Linked DNA regions of Homo sapiens: region 1 is linked to region 2. A link means that fine-mapping ties the variant in region 2 to the expression of a gene that starts in the linked region. Tissue or cell type: whole blood. Region 2 holds a variant in brackets; the other region holds the start of a gene. All regions are shown on one strand. Distances are between the middles of the regions.

Region 1 (8,489 bases), 96 kb after region 2:
CTGTACAAAAAGTTAAACTATAAAATTCCAAGCTCCAAGATTCTAAAAAGGTACAAATGTCTTATTTGTTTCAACGTTTTCTTTGAACGTGCACATTTCATCCGGTAAAGAAACCTTTGGGATTTTATCTTAAAGCCGTTTAAAGGCATAATCAAAAGGTTTGAGTATCAAACAAAAGCCACCTATCCATAACACATCCTGTTCACGAAAGCGTCCCAGAAACTCGATATAAACAAAATCCCTCTGTTTATTTCCAGGAGTTAATACTGTGGTTTTCTGTATCCAACAGTATGCCTACATACCCGGGGTTATTACGTTTTCTTCCTCTACTCAAACAGAGCATCTGCTGCTAACATTAACACTGAAGTCCAAGTTATTTTCACAAACAAAAAAGCAGCTGGTCAAGCTAATCCATTTGTTGACTAGCCACCATGAAGCTTCTGTAAGACTGCCTAGTTAAGTTAACCTCTACTGTCAGACTGCATGACTCAGAACTTCCAAACCTCTTTCTATTAGAATGTAACAACTCTTCTCTGGAACCACCATGTGAATCGTTTCTTACAGATATAATAGCAGAAAAGATGCTTTAAAAGTAAAAATGTCGGGCCGGGCGCGGTGGCCCACGCCTGTAATCCCAGCACTTTGGGAGGCCGAGGCGGGCGGATCACGGGGTCAGAAGATAGAGACCATCCTGGCTAACATGATGAAACCCCGTCTCTACTAAAAATACAAAAAATTAGCCAGGCGTGGTGGCGGGAGCCTGTAGTCCCAGCTACTCGGGAGGCTGAGGCAGGAGAATGGCGTGAACCTGGGAGGTGGAGCTTGCAGTGAGCCAAGATCGCGCCACTGCACTACTCCAGCCTGGGCCACAGAGCGAGACTTCGTCTCAAAAAAAAGGAAAAATGTCTACACTTAATTTTAAAAGGAGAAAGTTACTTTGAAGTTAGGATTATTAAATTAATAACAGTAGCTAACAGTATTTTTGTATGCTAGGCACTGTTTAGTGGGTTTTAAAAATGAATGCAAGACCGGGCACAGTGGCTCAAGCCTGTAATCGCAGCGCTTTGTGAGGCCAAGGCTGGCGGATCACCTGAGTGAGGTCAGGAGTTTGAGACCAGCTGGCCATCATGGTAAAACCCCGTCTCTACTAAAAATACAAAAATTAGCCAGGGGTGGTGGCAGGCGCCTGTAATCCCAGCTACTCAGGAGGCTGAGGCAGGAGAATCTCTTCAACCCAGGAGGCGGAGGTTGCAGTAAGCCAAGATTGCACCGTTGCACTCCAGCCTGGGCGACAAGAGCAAAACTCCGTCTCAAAAAAAAAAAAAAAAGAACACAATCCTCACAATAATCTTGTGAGAGAATTACAATTATTGTTATCTCTGTTTTACAGATGAAGAAATGGAGACAGAGCAAACTATCCCAGCTCATACAGCTTATAAATAGTAGAACTGGAGACTTGGCTCCAGAGCCATCCTCTTACTAATGTAAAGCCCAAATCCCAATGCCTAACAAACATTCAGGTATATATTCAGGCCTTCCTCACACTTTGCAGTACCTATTTTTCTTATACTCTACTGACTGAGGTACTACCCCTACTACTATTTTCAATGTACATTCCATAACAGAAAATAGTATCTAAAAATCATGTCTGGGGTGTACTACTGTCTTATTTAAAGAGAACAATATCCAGCTTAGATCATTACTATTTGAGGCTTGTGATTCTGCAGGAATTCATACGAGAAAAGGAAGCTCAGGTTCAGAGCACTGAACTGGTTATACACATTAATCCCGGACATTCTTTTTACAGCTATAAACCAAAGGGTGTTTGTTTTTTCATTAGAAAGATTTGGTACCACCAATGAAATTCAACATATTTTCTAATATTGAGAAGTTGATTCTCAAAGATATCACAAATAAGATACATTACTACTACTACTAAGAAAGAGAAGCTAATTCTTTGCTACCTCTCAGGAAACTGCACGTGGTAACCTGTAGGTACCCTAACACATCATTCGAAATGAGAACAAATAGGTTCAAATCTTAGCCTTAGGGCTAGTAGCATGACCTTCCAGGAGTCACAACTCATTAAAGTAAGGAATAATGCATCCCTGATAAAGTATGATGATCAATATTAAAACACATTTTTTTGTATTTTATGGGACACAGTATTTTAGTGGTCATACTTTGTAAACTTTAAAATGCTGTGTTTTCAGAACAAACTATTTTATCAGATTTTTACTATGACACTATAAAATACTCTTACTTCTACTGCATAGATGAGGAAACAGATTAATCACAGTTAAGTGACTTGCTCCTTATCACAGAGCTAGTAAATAGCATCCTGGAACCCATGTCTCCGGACTTTGCTCCTTCACTTGACCTCTGCTAATGTCCATTCAAATATCATTTCTTTTATCTAATAAGCTGAGAGATGTTTTACAAATTTAGGCAGAGACAATATTTTAAACCTATACATACTCAAAATACACAAAATCTAATTTTTAAAAAATGCCTTAAGAATAGTCATGCATTCCAAGGTGAGTTTCAAGACCAACACATACAATGAAATCATATGCATATTTGTTAAATACTGTAATAGTCAATGCTCAACACATCATTATTCTCTCATGCCCTCAGTGAAGTGATCCTCAAGAAGGTGAATGTAGACAAAATTGTAGAAAACGTTGTTCTAAGTCTTTCCCGTGCTTTCTAATAATAGAAAAGAATAGTCTCTTAGATATGTCTTTGTTTTCCCTGCTACATTATTAATACTCCTTGTTTTTTCTTTCCTACCCTGTACTATATTTCAATTACGTTATAGTCTAACAAAGAGAACAGGGTGGTTATTTTCATATGGAGATTATGACTGAATAATTCACTTCTAACTGTATTCAAGACATTGGCTTTGTTCTCCAAATACTTCTGAATTGAACCTTTACGATTATATAACCTTTCCTCAACTGTTCGGAAAGTATAAAACATTCCACAACGACCCCTAAGTAACTGTGCCCAGCAACACCAACTGGTCAGAGAGTGGGAAGGCTGCCCTAACAATTGAAGTCTTTTCCCTCCATTCAACGAACACTAAACACTAAGATCTACTTAGGAAAAGTCATGGGAAGGGGAGCGGTGGGCGGTACAAAGGAGATTCGGTCCCTGACCTAAAGAGCGTGGTGCTGAGACGAGACTTGGTCGAGGAGAAAGCCCCAGCTTTCGGCGTCAGCAGGGAGACACCAAAAAGGCTGTGCCTCGGTTTCCTCACCTGCTGAGGAGGGATACACCCCCACCAGCACGCTCGCAGTCTGCAGGCATGAAAACCGGCCTAAAGCGCTGCAGAGTGGCTGATTTTAAAAGGGGGATGGCTCCGTTTCTCCTCCAGAGTCAGGGCCCCGGACAGCGCGCAGAGCAGAGGCCAGCCCGAGTCACCGGGCGCGGTCCCCGCATCCGTGTGGGCGCCTCTTAGCTCCCGCCCAGAGAGCGGCCGGGCGGCCTTGCCCTCCGCAGCAGCAGCCCGGACGCCCGGCCAGGCCCACCCCGCGCACCCACAGCCCACGGGCCCAGGCGCCCCGCCCACCCTGTGCCGGCCCGGCTTGTCTCGGTAGCCCCGGGCTCCCCTCCCCCGCTTACTTTCTGGGAGTCCATGGCGAGTGGCTAAGCCCACTGGGCTCGAACCCGAGACGACGAACCGTGTGAGGAGGCTCAGCGAGATCGCACACCCCAAGACCGCTACTCACTGCACTGCCCCAGCCCGCACCGGCACCGCCCGGCCCCACCCGTCCGCGCCCAGACCGCGCGCGCCGTAGTCACGCCGCGGTTGCCAGGGTGAAAGGGCGGCCCGCAGAAGGGAGGGGCTGAGGAGCGCACCGCGCCTGCGCGCAGCGGCTGACTGCTCCCGGGAAGTAGCCGTGGAGGGTGGGGAGCGCCGCCCGTCTGTCTACCGCTAGTGCCTCTGCAGGCTGCACTCCCTTCCCCCATCCTTTTTCCTCCAGCGATAGCGGTCTCTCCGGCCCTGAAATAGGCCACTGGGCATCCAGCAGCCGGCCGGTGCGGAGGGCCCGGGAAGGAAAGAGTATCTGGTGCTGGAGACGGATTAGCCCACCCTCCACCCAGCACGCATCTGAAGCCCCTCCCCACACTATCCTTCGAGGGGCAGCCAGGCTTGAGCGGACCCAGCGGTCCAAAGGGAGGAAAAGGGCTGGGGTGGGGATGTAGCGAAAACGTGGGAAAAGACCTTTAGGGGATGTGGTGGAAACGTGGGAGGAGGGATATAGGGATGAGAGTGGCGGAAACGTGGGTGTGGGATTAATATGAGCTTTGGGGCCTGGCACAGTTTTTCCCGGGGACCCACCCATCCTCCCCGGCACCTCGCTACCTGTATGATTTTGAGCAAGTCAGTCTGCCTGAGCTTGTTTCATCTGTAAAATGAGAGAAATAATGCGGACTTTGCAGAGGATTGTGAGGATTAAATAACGTATGGTACATAATTAGTAGTGAATAAATTATAGTCATTCTCTTTTTTTTTTTTTTTTTTTTTTTTTGGAGATGGAGTCTCGGTCTGTCACCGAGGCTGGAGTGCAGTGGTGCCATCTTGGCTCACTGCAACCTCTGCCTCCCGGGTTCCAGGAATTCTCGTGCCTCAGCCTCATGAGTAGCTGGGATTACAGGCGCCCCCACCACACCTGGCTAATTTTTTGTACTTTTAGCGGAGACTGGTTCTAGCCATGTTGCTTAGGATGGTCTCGAACTCCTAAGCTCAGGCAGTCCGCCCACCTCAGCCTCCCAAATTGCTAGGATTACAGGTGTGGGTTACAGGGCATGTGCCAGGCCCATTATAGTCATTCTTAGTGGGGAGTTAGAACCTGCTCGGTGTGGCCTGAGGCATCAATGAAGATTTTAGAAAGCTTGGAATTTAGTAGGCTTGAGAAAGTTCTTCCTCAAGCAGACAGGCCTCATCTTCCATTTGGATGACTCTGGAGAGGCTCACAAAAGTTCAATTAGACAGTCATTTATGATGAATGAATAAAAGGGAAATACATATTGAGTACCTATTCTGTACCAGTTCTACAAACAAAATTCAGTAGTGGGCAAGGCCCTGTTTCTCTCACAGAGCTTACAATCTAGTATAGAAGACCAACCAAAAAAAAAAAAAAAGTTAACGTGCTAGACGGTTATAGGTGCTAAAATTAAAACTTAGGCCAGGCATGGTGGCTCACACCTGTAATCCCAACACTTTGGGAGGCCCAATGAGTGGATCACTTGAGTCCAGGAGTTCGAGACCAGCCTGGGCAACATGGCAAAACCCCATCTCTACAGAAATTAAAAAAAAAAAAATTAGCCAGACGTGGTGCTGCAAGCCTGTAGCCAGAGCCAATCAGGAGGCTGAAGCGGGAGGATCACTTGAGTCCTGGAGGCAGAGGTTGCAGTGAGCCTAGATCACACCACTGCACTCCAGCCTGGGCAACAGGGTGAGACCCCAGCTCCTAAATAAATAAATAAGGCAAATGGATTCAGAGAATTGGGAGGGTTTAATTTTTCATAGAAATGTCAGGGAAGATCTCTCTTGGAAATGACCTGAGTATAAAGTGAGAAGAGGAATTGTACAAGGATCTAGGGAAGAACATTCTAGAAAGTAGGAACAACAAATACAAAGGCCTTGTGGAGAGAAGGAGCTCTGTGTTTGAGAAACAGCATTTATTCTACAATGTTGTCATTACATCTCCACATGGATCCCCCTGACTGTACTGTGATTTTTTTTTTGAGGGCTGAATTTCTTTTACCCCATATCTGTATCCCCAGCTCAGAGTCTGCCACATAGTATGCACTTAATACATCCTTTTTTAACTGGACAGAGATGTACAAGAAATGAAATGAAAGTTACAAAAGGGAAAAGAAGAGCTTGGCTAAGGCTGGGTGGGTAGTGCTTAGAGAGCCAGGGTCCAGGGTGGGCCTATGTGTGCCAGCTGAAAGGAGTAGTGGCATGCAGTCCTTCAAAGAGATGCCCATCTCTTAGTACCAAGGGAAGAGAGCCTCTTATTCAACCTTTCCCAACTCCGTGAGGAATAACAAGTGCAGCCAGGCGCCAAGCCATTAGCCCACTGCTGCAGCCACAAAGGTCGTTCCTTCACACTGTGTACTGCAGTTGAGTCAGTTTCCCATGAGGGAGAAATAGCCTGGCGATTGGAGAACATCTAAAGTCTACTCACCAGACTGCGTGCTTCCTGGCTCTGCCCCTGCTTGCCACTATGGGACCCACGACTAAGCAGAGGAGACAGGGCTTGGCGATGTCCCCACTTCTCTTGCTGCAAGGACTTAACCTCATTACTGTCTGAGGGCAATTCCTAGGCACTTTATGACTGACAGGCACCACCAGAGAAAGAAGAAAGAGGCTTTTGGGGACAGTGAGTTGCAGCTGAAATGTGATCACCAGACTCTGTCACAGTCCACACCCCAGGAGCTCACTCCTGGCTCCTTGCCTCCAGCTTCCCAAGTTCTTTCCCTGTAGCCCAGCCAGCAGACTGCAGCTTTTGACAACATCTCTACCCCATTTGGCTTCTGCCCTCACCTGATCTCTGTCTCTGGCCAGTCTGGCTCTCCTGCCCAGCTCATCCTGGGCCTTTTGCTTCCCCTCGTTCCCATCTGGGAAACAGCTAGTTCCTTCTGACTGTGACTTCTGTCTTCCCCAGTTTGTACAAGTTCTCCCATCACAGCCACGTACCGAGCTGGGCTCTAAGTCTCCCACCCAATCCCTCCCAGTACCTCTGGCCTATAGGCAAGTCCTTTGCCTTTTCTGTACTTATTTTTTCACAGCCAAATCCATTTAGAAATTTTCAAAAGTAGTTTTACAAATAAAATAAAGCATTTTTCTTAAATGTGATCCCTGGACCAGCTGAATCCACATCACCTCATAACTTCTATGAAGTACAAATTGTCCAGCCTTATCCCTGGATCTACTGAATCAGGAACTCTTGGAGTAGAATCCAAAAATCTGTGTTTTAGCATTTCCTCTAGGTGATTCTGATGAACTCTAAGCTTGAGAGCCATTGAACTGCGAGAAAGCAAATTGTTTACAAAAAAAGGGGTCGGGGAGAGGACTACAGAGGCATAAAAATATCAGTTCAAAACCTAGGTTTCTGGTTCTTAAAAAGCCTATCTAGTCATAGACATTTATCCTCTTGAGGTCTCTGGGCCTCCAGGAACCTCTTTCTGAGGAAACCTCAAGTTAGGATAGCCTCATAGAAAGGCTGATGTAGAGAGTCTGGCAAAACTGTCTCTCCCAGAACCAGGTTCTGTATCCTCTCTGAGTGGTGCCAGGTATTGCCTGCAGCCCTGGGCTACCTCGTATATTCTGAAATTCCCCCATCTCTTAGGAGAGAAATTTCCTTCCTTTCAGTGTTGCCAGCAGTCTATCCCTTTGGGAGTCAGTATAGGGCCATCAGCATGGAGTCAGCAGTGTGAATTTAAATCCAGATGCTGCTGCTTACCAGCAACGTAGCCTTCAGTGAGTCACTTACCTTGCTAAACCTCAATTTCCTCGTCTGTAACATACCGATCAGAATAGTAGTAATTCCCTTTTAGGGTTGCTGTGAGGATTAAAGGGGATTATGTAGGTCAAATGCTGGCTAGTATTATTTAACAAGTAGTAGCTGTTACTAATAATTACTCTCTTACTCATAATGTCCTTCTGTTTTACCCTTGCACAGCTCTTTTTCCTTCTGGATCTTTGGGGCCTTAAAAGACCTATTCTCACCACAACTCCCCCTTTCCCTGTTATACCTGTTTTTTCTGGAGTATAATCACTAGTCAAATGCTGCCCTTTGTTGAAGCCCAAAATCTTTGCCCGTTGCTCCCTGCTACTATATCTGGCCTGAGTCTTAGCATTTGCCACCCAGCCTGGGAAGACTCCAAGGCTCTCTAAGCCTCAGTTTCTTTAGCTGTGAAATAGAGATCATAAAAGTAGCACCTATAAGGGTTGTTGAGTGGTAAATCATATAATTCATATTAAATTTTGAGCACAGTGTCTGGCATGTAGTGAGCATTCAAAAAATATTAGCTATCTCTTCCCAACCATAGAAACCTAATTCTGATTTTTTTTTAACAGAGACATGGTCTTGCTGTGTTGGTCAGGATGGTCTTGAACTCCTGGCCTCAAGCAGTCCTCCCACCTTGGCCTCCCAAAGTGCTGGGAATATAGGCATGAGCCACCATGCCCGGTCTTGTTTTTCCTGCCCTTTTCTGAGTAAAATCCAAAGTCACCCAAAATCCCTGCAACCCCTTGGAAGTCAAAGCAAAAATTTCTGATCCTGGGCACTCATTATAGACAGAGTCTGCCCAGGAGGGTGATATGGTTTGGCTGCATCCCCACCCAAATCTCATCTTGAACTGCAGCTCCCACAATTCCCATGTGTTGTGGGAGGAATCTGGTGGGAGGTAATTGAATCATGGGGGCAGTTCTTTTCTGTGTTGTTCTCATGATAGTGAATAAGCCTCAC
Region 2 (8,489 bases):
ATGTAGCAAAAGGACTGAGAGAAAACAAACCTCTGAATGAATGGCTGCTTGAAAAAGTCATGTGCCAATTAAGTCAAAGATACGCAGATTTTTTTCAAAACAATTGCTTAAAGCATTCCATATGTTATGAAAAAGAATATATACATTATTTGAGTATTTAGGTACCTCCCTTTATAACCTATCCTTCTTAGATAAAAATTGAGTGATATACATTTTTCAATCCTCTATGTAACTTTAATAAACTTTGATTCCTATAAGAGATGCTAAAAATCAGCATAATTATTATCAGTGTCACATTCAAGTGGGAATTTTACCAAACACAACTATTAAAGGTAGGATTAAACTAGACAACAAAATCAAAAAATATAAGGCTTTCAAAAATCTTACCCATCACCTAAAGTGATGGAATGAAAAGAACTGTAGTTAAACAAGGCAACATATAAAGAATACCCCCCTTGCCATTGTTAGTGCAGTAGGTAAAGAACTGAAATTTGGGTGATTTTAAGCTGTTGTGTCTAGAAATTTCTTATCACAATATTTTGGAAAAAAGAAAATTATATACAATCTAGTCAATAAACAAAAGAGGAAAATTTTGTAAAACTTATTTATAAAAGAGGAAAAATAAACCATTTGAAAACCTTTTTACCATTCCCAACATATGATTTCAATTTTTAGAAAACCTTGGATGACTATGTATTTTTAAAGCTTCTGTGTTAGAACTAAATAATAGATAGTAATGAGATTTTAAAAAGACAAAGTACAGAAGAAAGAAGGCAAGATTTAAAAGCTTTTCTCCCCAGGCCTTAGGGTTACCATATGTAATTAAACATTAGAATAGTCAAAGTAATCCAAGAAATACAAAAATGAGTTTTTATGTTAATTAAACACTGCCTTTTCCCCCATTTACTCTTCAATCATCAGTTTTTTGCTTGGTATCTGCTTGCTTCTATGATACTGCACAGTAGGTTCCTGCAAATGCTTCGTACTAGGTGTTTAATGATAAAAGATTCCAGGCCTCAAAGCAGAACACAGCAAACCTGATTTTCACTACTACCAAATTCCTGTGATTAGTAACTGCACAGAAAAGGCCACCTAATCAAGACGGAGGGTAAACGTATTCTGAGTAGACACTATTGAGTAACAACATTGTTCAGGCTGCTAGCTGAACCAGTCATTCCATTTTCACTTTTCTGAAGTGTTCTCACAGCACTTGGAACCTGCATCCCAGTACTCAAAGAAAGTCCACCACACCATACCTAAGAAAAGACAAAAAAACCTGTCAGATTGCAAATCAAACTAGAATTTCAGTGATTTTTAAATTTCCATTTCAAAGGCAAAATGCCACACATATGAACATCAATCATTCTCAAACACATTAACTGTCATATTTCAGCTGAGGGGAAATGGAAAGACTAAATCAGAATTATTTTAGAACCACAGAGGCCAGAGGAGGTCTTGGTGGTAGCAGAACCAACTGAAGCTGCACCCAAGAGAAGGAACTCAGGGGTGCAGAAATTGAGAAACTTCATTGGCTTAATCTAGGCAAAAGGTATTACCTATCATTACTGATGCTAATTTTCACAACCAAGGGAAGCATACAAAGCACCAACTTACTTCCCACTTATGCTTTTGGTTTTGATAATGAGATATGGCCTGAGACTATAAAAATCTAACACCCCTCAGTTAACAGTAAAATCCACTGTTTTCTTCCTTACCGTGTTAACTATAAGAACTCTTATATAATTATTTAAGAAGGACTCCTGACAAAAATGCAAATCCCAATATCCAGATGTACTTCCCATGTTCTATTACTTATCATAAATGTGAATGACTTTGTGAAAGATAAAACTGCTTTGCTTAGGCTGGTTCAACATACGCAAACCAATAAACGTAATCCAGCATATAAACAGAACCAAAGACAAAAACCACATGATTATCTCAATAGATGCAGAAAAGGCCTTTACCAAAATTCGACAGCCCTTCATGCTAAAAACTCTCAATAAATTAGGTATTGACGGTACATATCTCAAAATAATAAGAGCTATTTATGACAAACCCACAGCCAATATCATACTGAATGGGCAAAAACTGGAAGCATTCACTTTGAAAACTGGCACAAGACAGGGATGCCCTCTCTCACCACTCCTATTCAACATAGTGTTGGAAGTTCTGGCCAGAGCAATCAGGCAGGAGAAAGAAATAAAGGGTATTCAGTTAGGAAAAGAGGAAGTCAAATTGTCCCTGTTTGCAGATGACATGATTGTATATCTAGAAAACCCCATTGTCTCAGCCCAAAATCTCCTTAAGCTGATAAGCAACTTCAGCAAAGTCTCAGGATACAAAATCAATGTGCAAAAATCACAAGCATTCCTATACACCAATAACAAACAGAGAGCCAAATCATGAGTGAACTCCCATTCACAATTGCTTCAAAGAGAATAAAATACCTAGGAATCCAACTTACACGGGATGTGAAAGACCTCTTCAAGGAGAACTACAAACCACTGCTCAATGAAATAAAAGAGGACACAAACAAATGGAAGAACATTCCATGCTCATGGATAGGAAGAATCAATATCGTGAAAATGGTCATACTGCCCAAGGTAATTTATAGATTTAATGCCATCCCCATCAAGCTACCACTGACTTTCTTCACAGAATGGGAAAAAACTACTTTAAAGTTAATATGGAACCAAAAAAGAGCCCACATTGCCAAGACAATCCTAAGGAAAAAGAACAAAGCTGGAGGCATCACGCTACCTGACTTCAAACTATACTACAAGGCTACAGGAACCAAAACAGCATGGTACTGGTACCAAAACAGAGATATAGACCAATGGAACAGAACAGAGCCCTCAGAAATAATACCACACATCAACAACCATCTGATCTTTGACAAACCTGACAAAAACAAGAAATGGGGAAAGGATTCCCTATTTAACAAATGGTGCTGGGAAAACTGGCTAGCCATATGTAGAAAGCTGAAACTGGATCCCTTCCTTACACCTTATACAAAAATTAATTCAAGATGGATTAAAGACTTAAATGTTAGACCTAAAACCATAAAAACCCTAGAAGAAAACCAAGGCAATACCATTCAGGACATAGGCATGGGCAAGGACTTCATGTCTGAAACACCAAAAGCAATGGCAACAAAAGACAAAATTGACAAATGGGAGCTAATTAAACTGAAGAGCTTCTGCATAGCAAAAGAAACTACCATCAGAGTGAACAGGCAACCTACAGAATGGGAGAAAAATTTTGCAATCTACTCATCTGACAAAGGGCTAATATCCAGAATCTACAAAGAACTCAAACAAATTTACAAGAAAAAAACAACCCCATCAAAAAGTGGGCAAAGGATATGGACAGACACTTCTCAAAAGACATTTATGCAGCCAACAGACACATGAAAAAATGCTCATCATCACTGGCCATCAGAGAAATGTAAATCAAAACTACAATGAGATACCATCTCACACCAGTTAGAATGGCGATCATTAAAAAGTCAGGAAACAACAGGTGCTGGAGAGGATGTGGAGAAACAGGAACACTTTTACACTGTTGGTGGGA[G/C]AGTAAACTGGTTCAACCATTGTGGAAGACAGTGTGGCGATTCCTCAGGGATCTAGAACTAGAAATACCATTTGACCCAGCCATCCCATTACTGGGTGTATACCCAAAGGATTATAAGTCATGCTGCTATAAAGACACATGCACATGTATGTTTATTGCGGCACTATTCACAATAGCAAAGACTTGGAACCAACCCAAATGTCCATCAATGATAGACTGGATTAAGAAAATGTGGCACATATACACCAGGGAATACTATGCAGCCATAAAAAAGGATGAGTTCATGTCCTTTGTAGGGACATGGATGAAGCTGGAAACCATCATTCTCAGCAAACTATCGCAGGGACAAAAACCAAACACCACATGTTCTCACTCATAGGTGGGAACTGAACAATGAAAACACATGGACACAGGAAGGGGAACATCACACACCGGGGCCTGTTGTGGGGTTGGGGGAGGGGAGAGGGATAGCATTAGGAGATATACCTAAGGTAAATGACGAGTTAATGGGTGCAGCACACCAACATGGCACATGTATACATATATAACAAACCTGCACGTTGTGCACATGTACCCTAGAACTTAAAGTATAATAAAAATAAAAACAAAAAATAAAATAAAATTAAAACTGCTTGTGAACAGAGCAGCTATAATTCAATAAAGTGAGACATAAGATTTGGGACACAGTCAAAAGAATTAAAATATGAAAATACAGATCATTGACACTATCATCAACTACCGTATATATTAATAGTAGACACAAGCTTAAAGCAAGGGAAATTCTAGAAGTTGTTTAAGTATCATCACCTTCAATTATACCCTTAAGTGTTCAATATCTACTAAGTAACTAGATTATTATACCAAAGAATCTACTGAACTGTGAAATTTGTAATTATATAATTAACATTATAAATTTTCAAAACTAACAGGCTCAGTAATGATAACTCCCAAAATACAAAAGCAACTTTCTGATTATAAAACTACTATATTATTTTTTGGAAATTATTTAAATGATTTAGAAAAATATTTACTCAAAATATCTAACATGAAGATGCAAAGGGAAATCAAGAAGAAAACATAAAACCTTTGTGACCTTGAGTTAAGCAAAGCATTACCCATAATAGGGAAAAAAATTACCAAATTGGACTTCATAACAAAATGAAAAACTTCTCTCTGAAATGTTCAGAAAATGAAAATGCAAACCATAACCAGGAGAAAATATTTGCAAAGCATATATCTGACAAAGGATTCACATCCAAACTTATAAAGAACTCTTAAAAACAGGAAAACCAGGCAGTGGCTCATGCCTGTAATCCCAGGATTTTGGGGGGCCAAGGCTGGTGGATCATTTGAGCCCAGGACTTTGAGACCAGCCTGGGCAATATAGCAAAACTCCATCTGTACAAGAAACATTTTTTAAATAGCCGGGTATGGTGGTGGGCACCTGTAATCCCAGCTACTCGGGAGGCTAAGGTGGGAGGATCACTTGAGCCCAGGCAGTTGTGACTGCAGTGAGCTGTGATCGCACCACTGTACTCTAGCCTGGGTGACAGAGCGAGACCCTGTCTTAAAAATAAAGTAAAATAAAAAAATAAGAAAACAATTAAGTCCTAAAAAGTAAGCAAATAATTTTAACAGATACTTGAAATAAATTATATGAATGGCAAATAAGGACATGAAACATCATTTGTCATTAGGAAACTACAAATAAAAACACAATGACATACCACTACACACCTATTAAAATGGCTTAACAACAACAAAAAATCTGGTAATATCAAATAATGGCAAGGATATGACCAACTCTCATATCACTGATAGGAAGGCAAAAAATGGTACAGCCACTTTGGAAAACATTTTGGTAGTTCCCCATGAAGTTAAACATACACTTTCAATGTGATACAGCTACTCTATTACTGCTCTTAGGTATTTACCCAAGGGAAAATCCCATATGTAAATGCTTATAGTGATTTTATTCATAACTGCCCCAAACTGGGAAAAACCCAAGTGTCTTTCAACTGGTGAATGAATGAATAAACTGTGATACATACATATATGAAACACTACTCAGCAATGAAAAAAAGGAGAATACTGACACCACAACAACATGGATGAATTTCAAATGCAGCATGGTACGGAATCGAAAGGCTACATACCATACAATTCTATTTATACGATGTTCTGGAAAAGGTACAACTATAGGGCCTACGAACTGGTTACTGATAGCTAGGGCTGGTTGTGTGGAACGGTCCACTATAAAAGAACACAAAGGAATTTTCTAGGGTGATGGAAATGTTCTATATCTTGATTATGGTGGTGGTTATACAACTGCAGGCATTTGCTAAAAACCACAGAACTGCACCATACTATAAATTCAATAAAACTGACTTAAAAATTAATCTTGTACACAAAACATTTAATAGGCATTAACGTACTTAATAAAAGCAAGCCTTCAATGAAGGAAAAAAAATTTTAACAAGCTTAAAATAATTTCTTGCAGTATCTTATGACATATACTAATATAATTAGAGTATTATTTGGAATGAAAAACAATAAACTCAGTACATACATACATGAGATAGATTCAAATTAAAAGTAAATCTACTATTTATAAAAGCACACCTAAGTCTTGGAAAAAATTTTTCTGCATTCCACATGGTAAACAACTCATCCTTGATGGACCAGTTTGGAAAAATAGCCAAAAATGCGTAATATGGCAGAGGTTTGTACAAAGTTAAAAAAAAAAAAAAAAGGAAAAAGAAACAACCCTCCCTTCCAGTATCTTTATGTTTCCATGAGCAATAACTTTAGTCACTAATCACTTACTTTTAATGTAAAAATAGGTGTCCTGGTTATTAGCATTGTTTTAAACTTAAGAGATTAAAGTATCTGGAATAAATAATTACTATGGATAATGAGATTTAAAAGCACTGTATTTTCAACCCACTCTTACTCTGAAAACTTTCTCCTTATAGTTGAGAAGTTACAGTTAGGGGTGATGACAGAAGAATATACATGCAAAATATTCCATTTGAAATATACCATCTTGACTTATAGAGGTAGCCTCCAAATTTAAGAAAAGCTCTAGCCAAAGTAATGGTAACTTTAACTGGATCCCACAACTCCCCACGGGAACCTAACCTATGAAAAGATGCAGAAGGTTATGAGTTGGAAAAAGCAATAACATTTGCTTAAATAAATTCAAAACCATGTTTTATTTTGTGCAGAGAAACAAATTTTTCTTTTCAGCCTGAAATTGAGTAGACCTGCAATTACACAGGATGTAATTGCTATGTGGTGTGCATACATATATTCAGCATAGCACACAAAGACAGTCATCTAATATTTTGTACAAAGATGACACTGCACTATGATCTTGTCAATAAATGGTCCTGGAATAACTGGATATCCATGGGGAATTAAAGAACGTATCTAGATCCTTACTTCATACCAAACACATCAATTCTACATTGTACTTGCATTGTAAATGCAGTCTATATCTAAATGTACAAGGTAAAGCTTTTAGAAGAATATTTTCATGACCTTGGGGGTGCATACTGATTTCTTAAACAGAACACAAAAAGTGCTAACTGTAAATGAAAAAATTGATAAACTGAACAAAATTAACTTTTGTTTATCAAACAATACCAATAAGGAAAAAGGAAAGCCAGAGTGAAGAAGAGCCTACAAATTAACCCATAAGAAACACGAAGACAACCTAATAGAAATACAAGCAAAAGATCTGAATAGCCAGTTCACAAAAGCATATACCCAAATAGTCAACAAATATATAAAAAGGTGCTCAACAGCACTAGTAATCAAGGAAATGCAAATTAAAACCAAAATGTAATATATCATCCACTAGAAGGACAAAAAATTTTTTAAAAGATAATACTAAGTGTTGACAAGGATTTGAAGGAACTCAAATTCTTACATACTGCTAGTTGTAAATTAGCATAACCAACCATTTCAGAAAACCGGCAATTTTACAGTTGATTATACATATACGATATGATCTAGCAACCCCAATCATAGGTATATACTCAATGGAAATATACACATACATTTATCAAAAGATATGAACAAAAGTATTCATAGCAGTTCTATTTGTATAGCCCCCAAATGGAAACCACCCACATATCCAACTAAATTAAAATTTATAAATCAATTGATATAGTCACAGAATGGAAAACTATACAGCTATGAGAATGAATGAACTATAACCACATAGAATATGGATTAATCTCACAAGCATAATGTTGAGTCAAAAAGATACTGTATGATTCTGTTTATATAAAACTGAAAAGGAAGTAAATTTAGGGTATTAAAAGTCAATACAGTGCTAACACTGGAGAAGGGCCATTAGGGACTGGAAATGGGCACTAGAGGGGGCTTCTGAGGTTCTCGTAATGTTCTAAGTGCTAGTTACACATGAGTGCAGTCCTATAAAAACTCATCAAACTACATGATTTGTGTACTTCATGTATTAACATAAACTTCAATAAAATATACCAAAAATATATAAAAACAATCACAGATTTGGGAGAGGGTGAATTGGGGAAATGGAGGAGAATATGAAGAAAAAACAAAATATTCTCCTTCTCCAAATATACAGTATAGAATATTCTCCTTAAAGTTGCCAACCAAGTAAAATATGTTAGGTATATATAAGATATAAAACATACTAACCATGAAACCAGGTAGTACTGGCTGAGTAAATTTTGTCTTAAAGGAATATAGCAACTGTTTAGAATTTGCATCATAGAATGAAAGTTGACCTAAAAAAGAAGGAAAAAAAGCCTAATTTATTATACAAAAAATTGTAACATTTAATTAATTCTAACGCATAATCATGCAAAAAGTAATAATATATAAGTTGGCATTAATTTTTGTATGAGGACTGGATTAATTATTCT

What was found. PIP is the estimated chance that this variant, and not a neighbour inherited with it, causes the effect.
Region 1: it holds the start of FSD1L, and the variant in region 2 is fine-mapped to the expression of FSD1L in whole blood (TOPMed, PIP 0.97).

Annotation. Positions count from the first base shown.
Region 1 is chr9:105,443,374-105,451,862 of GRCh38, reverse strand. It overlaps FSD1L (fibronectin type III and SPRY domain containing 1 like), which reads right to left and starts at 3,829. Exons shown (of 14, transcript NM_001145313.3): 1 at 3,628-3,829. The coding sequence starts at 3,642. RefSeq lists a silencer at 3,339-3,948.
Region 2 is chr9:105,539,125-105,547,613 of GRCh38, reverse strand. FSD1L (fibronectin type III and SPRY domain containing 1 like) reads right to left here. Exons shown (of 14, transcript NM_001145313.3): 13 at 8,263-8,351; 14 at 1-1,256. The coding sequence ends at 1,131. Among named protein-coding and RNA genes, the nearest start is that of FKTN, 15 kb to the left of the region's middle. The variant G/C (reference allele first, on the strand shown) is at 3,574.